Linked DNA regions of Homo sapiens: region 2 is linked to region 1. The links come from fine-mapping of genetic effects on gene expression. A gene starts in region 1. The other region holds a variant in brackets. All regions are shown on one strand. Distances are between the middles of the regions.

Region 1 (5,211 bases):
CCATGGTGGGTTCTGCACAAATCCACAACTTTCTGTGTTCCACTCTCCCCATCCATACGCTTGAGTCTGACCTTGTTCTCTCCTGCTGTAAGAGAAACTTATTTCTTTTTCTTTTATAAGGAAAAAGAAAGAAAGAGGCAATCATCTTGCTCTCTCTCATAGCCCTTCACAGCCTTGAAGACGGTCATTAAATTGTCTTATTGCCTATCATTCATGGAAAAGAAAAACCTTTCCTTGATTTATCAGGTCAGTTATCTCCATAGTCTATTCTTTGTGGACTCTAAGAGGCTATGAATTGAATTGGCCTCATCATTTTGGCTGCTGAGATGGGAGCCGTGTGCCCTGATCCTCACACCATTTCCCATCACCCTGCCTTGCTCTGCCCCACCGACACCCCACATACCCCACCCTACCTCTTCCGGCTCCCAAATCTAATTTCTTTTTGAAAAAGTCACCAGACACTTTGAGACTGTCCAACAAACACGATTAAAGACAAAAGGCTGGGGAGGCAGGAGCAATGCCAGCTGAGCAAAAAGATTGTCCTGGCCTGACCCACAGCCTGGAGCCGCTCTCCCTGGGGAAGGGGGACTGGGGGATGAGAACCTTTTGTGCCCATCAGCTCCTAATGGTGGCTCAGGCCCATGCATCTCTCTGCTCTTGCACCCACACCCCCACCCCCCATTCCTCACCCAGCTCCCTGCAGGACTCAGGCATGGAGTAAAGAGTAAGAACCCTGAAATGGAATGAGGAGTACTTGAATCTTGCCCCAGCTCTGCTTTCATTCCCTGTGAAATGTGAGCAAGTCACCCCCATCTCCAGACCTCATTGGTCCATCTATAAAATAAGAACCCTGGATCAGATTGGCCACCAGCCACCTGCTCAGAAGTTTACTTATCCTTGCAGACTTTGATACTGTGACAAGTTGAAACCCAGACCACAGCTTTCTGCATTTACCTTAAGGCCCAGGGCTGGGGCACGGAGTAGAGGTAGGATTAATCCATTGGAGAGAATAGTGTAAAAGCATTTCAGACCGTGGATGCACAGGGTCTGGGTTGATTTGGAAATCACTCCTTGAGCACCGACTAGGTGCTGGTGCTGTGCTAGGTGCTAGGGGTGCACAGGTGTGCTAAGACAGAGTTGCTGCCCCCAAGATCTCAAGTCTAGCATGAGAAATTAACTCATCAGCAGATCATTTCAAAATAACACTGTAAATGACATACCGGATGCATGTGAATCCACAAGGGGATATGGGAGTCCAGGGGAACCCAACCTAGGAGGACCAGGCAGATTTTTGGCAGGGGGTGGCACTTGAGCTGTTTCTGAGCATGAATCGCTGAAAGGTTTACAGAAAGTGTTCCCAGGACGGTGCTAAGGCGCTGAAGCAAGGGCAGGGGCTGAGTGCAAAGGGAACTTCAGGCCCTCTAGCTAGACAAGAGGATGGAGCTTTGCATGGAGAGAAAGCTAGTGACAAGGCTGGGGGAAGGGGCCCTGCAGGGGCTTCATCCTGGAGGGGTCTGAGCCAGACAGGAATGTGGGTAGATGTACATTTCCGGTTCTCTGTGCGGAAGCAGGGTGGTGGGCCAGGAAGGAGGGCAGTGGGCTTGTGTGGTTGGAGGGTGGTACTCTTTCTTCCGGCTCCCCTTTCCCCCCGAGTGCCTCCTTCCCACTGTGGATGGCACTTACCATGTGCGCCATGGGACAACTCTGCCTGACCCCAGCACACACACACACACCCCCCACACCACACACATACACCACACACACCACACATGCACACACACACCACACACATATATACGCACACACCCATACACATATACACGCATACACCCATACACACACATCATACACACACACATACACCACACACACCACACACATACACCCATACACACACATACACATATGCCACACACACCACACACGCATACACACCACACACATATACACACATACACCTATACACACACATCATGCACACACACCACACACGCACACACACCACACACACATATACACACATACACCCATACACACAACATACACACACACATACACACATCCATACATACACATCATACACACACATACACCACACATACCACACATGCACACACACCACACAGATATATACCCATACACCCGTACACATACACTACACACCACAGATGCACACACACGCCACACACATATACACACATACACCCATACACGTACATCATACACACACATACACCACATACACCACACATGCGCACACACATCACACACATATACACACATACACCCATACACACATATCACACACACACACACACACACACACACACACACACACAGATTCCACTGCCCAGCCCATCGGGGCACTTAACATATATGGTAGAAATGAATTATTTGGAAAGGGGCCATGAGTGGCCGACCTGCTGTAGACAATTTTTGTGGTTCCCTCCACCCTGGGGGGTTTGTATCCAGTGAGTGACAGAAATTCCAGGCATGGTTGGAAAGCTTCTGGAGTGAAGTGGCCCCTAGTTCTTAGTGGGTAGGTAGATGCCCTTGGTTAGGCTTGTATTTGCCATCTGTAATTTGGGGGGAGCTGCTCAGAGGAGCCCCATTGCTCTCAAGAGCCCCGAGCGGTTCCCTAGGTCCATCCAAGCGTGTCTGTGGTCTCTAATTCCAGCCACAGCATTTATTTATTGCATGTATTCCTTCCACAGCAAGAGAGAGCCCTCGGGATCCCCAGAGTGTTAGCTTCACAAATAAAGTGCGACTCAGTGTATTCGCCCAGGCATCCCAGGATAATCTGGCCAGGCTGGTAAACAGGAAAGATCAGTGTCTCCCTCCCCTGCCTTTGCCTGCCTGGATGCATCTGTCCGTCTTAGAACGGATTCCCTGCTCCCCTCCAGAGCATCCCCAGGTCAGGGCAGACCCCCTTCCCAGGGGTGGACACTGCAGTGTGCCTACCTTGCCTCAGTCCTGGCCTGGGCAGGAGTCTGGCGGAGCCTCTGAGGTGACGAGACCACCTGGCTGGGTGAATGTCCAGAGGGTGGGCAGCTGGGCTCCCGGTCTCAAGAGTTCTCCCCAGCTCCCTGATCACATCCCTTTTATAAAGCCCGGGGTGACGTCTCCAAGCACAGGCCCACTCTGCCGCCCCTCCCTCCTCCTCAGACCCTCCTGAAGAGCATGGCACCTTGGGAGGCCTCTGCCTCCGGGCTCTGTGACTGGAGGCAGCCTCTCCTCCTGCCCCACCCGAGCCCTCCGAGGCGGGACTTTCTCCTTCTTACCGGCTCTTTCCATCCTCCACACCCTCTTCCCACCCAGAGGACCCATCCTGCCCCCAAACAACGTGGAAATGGGCTATCTGAGGAGGGTGGGGAGAAGTGTCAGTGTGAAATGTCTTGTTTCCTCTCCGAAGAGCCACAGACACACCTAGTCTGAATTAGACGTAGAAAACGACAGGAAGAGGGGAGGAGAAGGGCACAGGCTGACCCAGGGGCTCCTCACATCCCATGCTCCCAGCTCTGAGGGAAAGCCAGGTCAGCGTGGGTCTCCAGGCGGCTCCTAGACTGCGCCCTGTGACTGGCACAGGGTGGTGGTGGCAGAGATTCTCTCCTTTTTCCTTCCTTCCTGCTTCCCTTCTTTCCTCGGTCACTGAGCGCTTCCTCAGCGCAGGGTTTTGAGGTGAATAGGCTATGGACTGGTCAGAGACCTTAGGTAAGCAACCAGCTATGAGCAAGGAGGACGAAATGGGAGCTGCAGAAGGTGGATGCACCTGGGAAGTGCCAGGGGTGCAGAGAGGGGACTTCCAGGTGGCAGCACATCCAGACAGCCTGCTTGGGGGCCCCACCTTCTTGTCTCGTGGCACCCACCACCATACTATTTTGTGACTGCTCAGGTACAGCACTTTGAGGACAGGGACAGGCCCCCTTCCCCCTGTACCCTTGGCACCCACTCCATTGCTGGGCACATACAGAGAGGGCCCTCAATAGATATTTGCTAACTGCATGCATCGCAAGTGACTTTTGTCTCTTTCTTGAGCCTGCAATAACTCTCTATACCCTTGGACAAGGGGCTCTCCAGGGCAGAGACTGTTTCTTCTATCAGGCTGGGAGTCTCTGAAGGCAGGGGCTATGTCTCTACCCTCAGACAGGACGCTCTCCCAGCACAAGCTCAACCTGGTCGTCCCCTAATGCTGGAGAAGCATGCCGGCAGTCTGCAGGTTAGCACCCCTCACTTGTCTGATGCTTACTGTTAACAGGGGATTGCAAACATATTATTATCACACCCATTAGGGCTGTTAAACACCAGGACAGAAATGATAGCCTATGAGGACAGCACTGACCCTCATAGACCAAAACTTCGCTGTGGGGATGATGTGTACGTTGGCCTGTCCTGAAGCAGGAGGTGGTCTTAATGGGCTGAAGACGCTAACTTTTTTTTTTTTGAGACGGAGTCTGGCTTTGTCACCCAGGCTGGAATCCAGTGGTGCGATCTCAGCTCACTGCAACCTCCGCCTCCTGGGTTCAAGCGATCCTCCTGCCTCAGCCTTTTGAGTAGCTGGAACTACAGGCACCTGCCACCACGCCCCGCTAATTTTTGTATTTTTAGTAGAGACGGGGTTTCACCATGTTGGCCAGGCTGGTCTCGAAGTTCTGACCTCAGGTGATCTGCCCACCTCAGCCTCCCAAAGTGCTGGGATTATAGGTGTGAGCCACCGCGCCCGGCCAAAGACGCCAACTCTGAGCCTTAGACACACGCACAACTTGGGAATTTAATCTTCACTTTTCCTCCCATAAATATAGAGTGAGGGTGTGATACCAGCCCCAGCCCAGTCTCCTTGGGGTCTGCATCTCTGCTTCCTGGCAGCCTCTTGAGTCGACTTGGGGATTTGACGTCAGTTGCTCAGCTCCATTCCTTCCTTCTGGACTTGGGGAGGTCCGGATATGTCGGGGAGTGAGTCAGTGCAGGGGACTGAGGGGGTGGTTCCCATTCTCCCTCTAGCCCCCTCAACCAATGATCCAAGTTCAAGGAGCTCATCTCTGTTTTTCAGACCATCGAGCTAGTGCCTTGAAGTCTCCGGAACAGCTGTGGGAGCCAAGAATCATTACTCCACACAAAGGGTAGAGAGCAGATGCAATATCTAGTTATTACAGAGCTGGCCTTGAGAGCCAGGAGCTGTGCCAGGCGCAGATACGAGAGGGGCTGTAGGGGCTG
Region 2 (5,488 bases), 25 kb before region 1:
CATGCCTGTAATCCTAGTGCTTTGGGAGGATGAGGTAGGAGGCTCACGCTCACTTGAAGCTCGTTCAAGACCAGCCAGGGCAATATAGCAAGACCCCATCTCTGAAAAAAATTAGCTGGGTGTGGTGGTGCGTGCCTGTAGTCTTAGCTACTGGGGAGGCTGAGGCGGGAGGATCACTTGAGTCCAGGAGTTCAAGGCTGTAGTGAGCTATGATTGTGCCACTGCACTTTAGCCTGGATGACAGAGTGAGACCCTGTCTCAAAAAATAAAAGGAAAGATTTTACATTTTCTCAAGATAATTCCTCATTCTTGTTATCTTTATCAGGTTTTTGATTACTTAGGAAAACTGAGCTTTAGAAAGGTTAAGTCTTTATATTCATGTAACTTTCTGTATTGCTATTAAAGTCTTTTAATTATCACTTTTGTGAAATGAATAATTATTATTTTACAAAGACCGGCGGTTCTGTTTTGATCAAATGGTTTGAGGCTTTAACATTTTGACAAATGTCCTCAAAATCTAATCCTAAATTAAGTTTGAAATGTTGCTAATTCTTTATGTTTTGTTTTCCAGAGTCAAGAAAGCCTTTTTTTTTTTTCTGAGACGGAGTCTTGCTCTGTCACCCAGGCTGGAGTGCAGCGGCGCAATCTCGGCTCACTGCAAGCTCCACCTCCTGGGTTCACACCATTCTCCTGTCTCAGCCTCCCAAGTAGCTGGGACTACAGGCACGTGCCACCACGCCCAGCTAATTTTTTGTATTTTTAGTAGAGACGGGATTCCACCATGTTAGCAAAGATGGTCTTGATCTCCTGACCTCATGATCTGCCTGCCTCAGCCTCCCAAAGTGCTGGGATTACAGGCGTGAGCCACTGCGCCTGGCCCGCCTTTTTTCTTTTTGAGCTATTTATAGCTTATAGAAATTGGGTTTACCTTTCTCTCTGTACCTAATATCTCCAGGATTTAAAAAACTATTAAATCCCTCTGGGCCCAAGGACGCTCATGGAAGAGGTGGGCACAAAACACCTTTTGATGTACTAATTTTACTTTTAAGGAGTAAAATTAGTTCAGATCCTCCAAATATAGGTACACAGATGCCTAAACAGCTGATGGCTCAACACATAGAACTTATAGAAAGGTCAGTTTTGTACCTTTGCTATTTGGCTTTTGGTTTTGGCTCTTATGTTACTTAAAAGGTTTTAAGGGTTAATGAATGCTTGGCCACCTCCCTTACCAAATGGCCTAAAACGTTTAATTGACTACAAGTCTTTTGGCTTTGAGTTCCTTAGCCACAGGGATCCTACCAAGGGATGTGATGGACCTGGGGCACATAGCCACAACACCCCCAGCAACAATATGGAACAAAATAAAAGTTTGGCCATTTATGCTGCCTTTGGTATATCTTGGCCAAATGGGAGAATGTCAACTAAAAATAAAATATTAAGCCCCCTGCTGACTGAATGGACCCCCTCTTGGCTAAGGGGACCCCAGAAAAACCTTAAAAACTTAGTCTTCAGGTATAATGTGATGGGAAGTCAGATACGCCTCATTATACCCTCTCCCTTTTGTGGTTTAGATACAATAACTAATCAACACTAATGTTAAAATAGAGGTCATAAGACTGACATAACTGAAATTTTGTGGCAATAAAATACCATATTATAAACAGGACCTAAGGCCATGCCAGGCAAGAGTTAAGTCATGCATCCTTACACTTAAAGAATAAGCTATATTCTCAATGACACAAGGTTTCTCTTTTTCTCTAGCAGCTAAGCAAGCACTGGCCTTAAGACAAGCAATATTAAAACAATTTCAACTCATCCAGTTCATAGATGCTGACTAACTGAACCCCAGTTCCACCAGCCATAACTATAGCTTTGATTGAACAAAAGACTGATTTCACTAATTTTCTCCTGATAATAAGACTGCTGGCCATGAACTGGTTCTAGCTAGTTATAGAGATTGTGCATTTGCATGCCTTTGTGTTCTGAAAAGACCTTTTGATGTACAGGGCCTAATTGTAGTACATTTAAATGTTACGCTTTCACCTCAAGGTAAACATGGGTCATATGTAACATGCATGTTTGTACAATACGCATGTGTCAGGATCACCTTCATAAATATTCGTAGCTTCTTCTGTAACATACATACATTGAATATGTATGCTTAGCCAACTGCTGTCATAGTCCCACAGGAGCCCTGGGTAAAATTGACAGTGGGGAACAAACTTATTGACTTTCTTATTGATACAGGGGCAACGTATTCTGTAGTTAATACCCACCTACCTTAATTCAAAGACTATCTATGATGGTGACAGGAGTGTCAGGGGAGCTGTGACTTGTCTCTTCCTGAAACCTTTAGATTATCATCTTAGAGACCACAATCCATGGGAAAAACTGAAAAGATGAACCATACTCTAAAAAGAAGCATTGCCAAAATATATCAAGAAACTAATTTGACTTGGGATAAGATGTTGCTGATTGCTGTTGTGGATTCGAGTGGCTCCCTCAAGTAGGTTCAAATTGAGCCCCTTTGAAGTATTATCTGGTAGCCCATTCTAGGTTTTTGTCCTGGTGGGAGAACCAACTGATGTTTTAAGAGATTTGGCAATTACCAAATATTAAGACTCTAGGCACTATACTAACTTCTGTTCATGAGTTTGCTTCTAGCAGGACCACTCATCCAGCAGATGTGGTCCTACATCCTTTTCAACTGGGAAATTAGATCCTCCTAAATACCTGGAAAGAACAAGGACCTGAACACCAATTTGCTGCCAAGTGGACAAGGCCATTTGAGCTGCTGGTGAACACACGCTTATCAGTTAAACTTGCTGGAGTAAAGCCATGTGCACATTATACTCAGGTCAAGGCAGTACCACCAGAAGACAGCCCACTAATCCGGAAACCAGGAAAACAGTGGGCTTGTGAGCACTTGAAAGACCGAAAGCTACTGTTTCACAAAAAGATAAGTACAATGAAAATGTATCCCCTATGTGTCTTGCATGTCCTTTAGAGATTTTTGTTTCCTTGGCAAGACAACTCTTGAGTTAGGATTTCTCAATCTATTGCCTCTTTCACTAGCATATCACACTGCCAGATTTGTCATCTTAAACCTTGTTCAGTACATGACCACTCTGATCCTCTAGTTGTTCCTGTACACATAATTTTAGTCATGTAGCCTCTTGGGCATTAGATCTATAGAAGCTGGTTTCTCAAATCATACATAGGATCCAATTGATAACTCCATACCCAGAGGCCCCATGTTTCTTTCTTATGCAGCACCTCATTAGACACTACATGCAAAGCAATAATAAGGACCCACAAGCCTGCAAGCCTACTTTCTTTTTTTTTTTTTTTGAGA[C/T]GGAGTCTCGCTCTGTCGCCCAGGCAGGACTGCGGACTGCAGTGGCGCAATCTCGGCTCACTGCAAGCTCCGCTTCCCGGGTTCACGCCATTCTCCTGCCTCAGCCTCCCGAGTAGCTGGGACTACAGGTGCCCGCCACCGCGCCTGGCTAATTTTTTGTATTTTTAGTAGAGACGGGGTTTCACCTTGTTAGCCAGGATGGTCTCGATCTCCTGACCTCATGATCCACCCGCCTCGGCCTCCCAAAGTGCTGGGATTACAGGCGTGAGCCACCGCGCCCAGCCGCAAGCCTACTTTCTACTTACCAAATGGCGTCCCTAAGCTAGCCACCTGTTGCTAGCTTAATTCCTCCTCTACAGACCCATATTGATACAATTAGACAACAGGCTACCTGGCTTTAACAAACCTTAGAACACCAAAGCAGGCTTAATCTGGGGGCACTTACAGAGACTGCTTTAAAGACCTATTCTCCTGGATTCCTAGTGTAATTCCATCAATCTTGGGAGGCATTCTTAAATTCAGCCTTGATGTTCTTCTTTTAGTCATGGTGGCCTACGTTCTAGTAAAACTTATTATGTACTGTGTAAACAAAGGTTGTGCAAGTCTCGCTAAAACTATCAAAGCAAAAAGGGAAATGCCGATGATCATTGTTCCTAAAAATGGCACTACGAAATATTTCCTTAGCCAGGTCAAATGGTTTCATTCCATAGTCACCCCTTGTCAACCCTGTTTGGCAGGAAGTAGCCAGGTGAGTAATGATGTCTCATTTTCCCCAATCCCACAAGACTGTGGGATGAACCTTTGACAATGGGGAAATTGAAATAGTGGAGGGAGGCTTAGCATGACTGACTCCATTTTGCCTCTGACCCCCAGGGGTAATATCTTTTAGGTTAAAAGCTTCTGCTTAGCTCTGTACACAGACCAGCTAATTATAGATTAGCTTGCAGTTCAACTTAAAAAAATGATAACAGCTCTTTCCCCCAAACTAAGCCCCAAGGAGATAAGGAAGAATACAGAGAAATAACAATGTTATGTTAAAGATTTATAGGAACATTGTGACCTGACCTAGAAAAAAGAACTTTTACATACTCCTCAGACCCTTGCTGGCACCCAGGTGTCTGCGGTCATCAGTCACCTCTTGATCCCAACCTCTTCCTCTTCCCCCTCCCCTAAATGTAAAAAGTAACCTAAAAGTCATGCTGACTTCAGATGGTTCTTTATGACGCTAGTCCACCATCTTCTTGGTTTTCTGAATAGGGTCGCTTTCTTTGCCCCAACACCTTACCTCTCAGCTTACTTGCTGTTGTGTGGTGAGTGGTGTGTGCTTGGATTTGGTTACATAATCCTCTGGAAGCAGGGAGCTGGGGGAGGAGGGGGTTGTCTATCCTCTGTTGACCTAGTAAGGGTGGGAGAGAAGGGCAGTCTTCAGGGTTTTGGCTTCTGCTAAATAGAGGTAGGGCAGCTGATCTTCCAACTTATTCTCCTCTTTCTGCTTGGCTCTAACTCCCTTTTAGGCCCTGGTTCTCTGCCTCATTTCCTTTTCCCTGTAGCTTTACAAGCAGTCAAGTACAGCTCCCCAGACAGACATCTGGTCCCTAAATCCCAGGATGAGTGCTATTTATTCAGGCTAAGATGCCTATCTTGGCTTTTCCCTGATTATTTTTTAGGGCCCACTTCAAATATTACCCCCTCCTCCATGAAGCAGGCCCTGACTCAGCCTGGAATTGACTGCTTTCTGCTGTAGGCTTCCACAGCATGGCTACAAGCCCTTCTATGACAGCACCAACTTAGCTGCTTTTGCAGCAGAGTTCTTTATGTATGTATGAATATGATTTTTGCCCACAGTGGTGCTTAATATTTATTAAGTGGATGAACTAGTGAACTGCAATGGGCAGTGCAAAGAGCCCTGGGTTGGTGGTCAGGGACTTGGATCCTAGTCTTCATTCTACCATAAATTTGCTATGTGATGTTGGATCCCTCCTTTCTCCTCTTTGGACCTCAGTTTCCAAATCTGTACAGTGAAGCAGATGGCTGGATGGCACCAAGGGTGTCTTCATGCTCTGATACCCTAATATTCTAATATTCTGTGCCTCCAGGGTACTGCCCTCTACACCAGCTCCACACCAGCTGTGG

Direction of the effects. Alleles are on the strand shown, and positions count from the first base shown. SD is a standard deviation of normalised expression in the study named.
For the expression in prostate of the gene that starts at base 3,077 in region 1, allele T in region 2 goes with a lower level than allele C (small effect, 0.36 SD a copy in GTEx).

What was found. PIP is the estimated chance that this variant, and not a neighbour inherited with it, causes the effect. A credible set is the group of variants that fine-mapping cannot tell apart.
Region 2: its variant is the best candidate, but not a certain one, in a credible set for the expression of KISS1 in prostate (GTEx, PIP 0.51).

Annotation. Positions count from the first base shown.
Region 1 is chr1:204,193,415-204,198,625 of GRCh38, forward strand. It overlaps KISS1 (KiSS-1 metastasis suppressor), which reads right to left and starts at 3,077. Exons shown (of 3, transcript NM_002256.4): 1 at 2,962-3,077. GOLT1A (golgi transport 1A) reads right to left here. Exons shown (of 5, transcript NM_198447.2): 5 at 4,749-5,082. The coding sequence ends at 5,044.
Region 2 is chr1:204,167,867-204,173,354 of GRCh38, forward strand. No RefSeq gene overlaps it. Among named protein-coding and RNA genes, the nearest start is that of REN, 4.3 kb to the left of the region's middle. RefSeq lists a promoter at 1-5,488, cis regulatory regions at 1,291-2,389, 4,096-4,134 and enhancers at 3,757-4,348, 4,030-4,255. The variant C/T (reference allele first, on the strand shown) is at 3,356.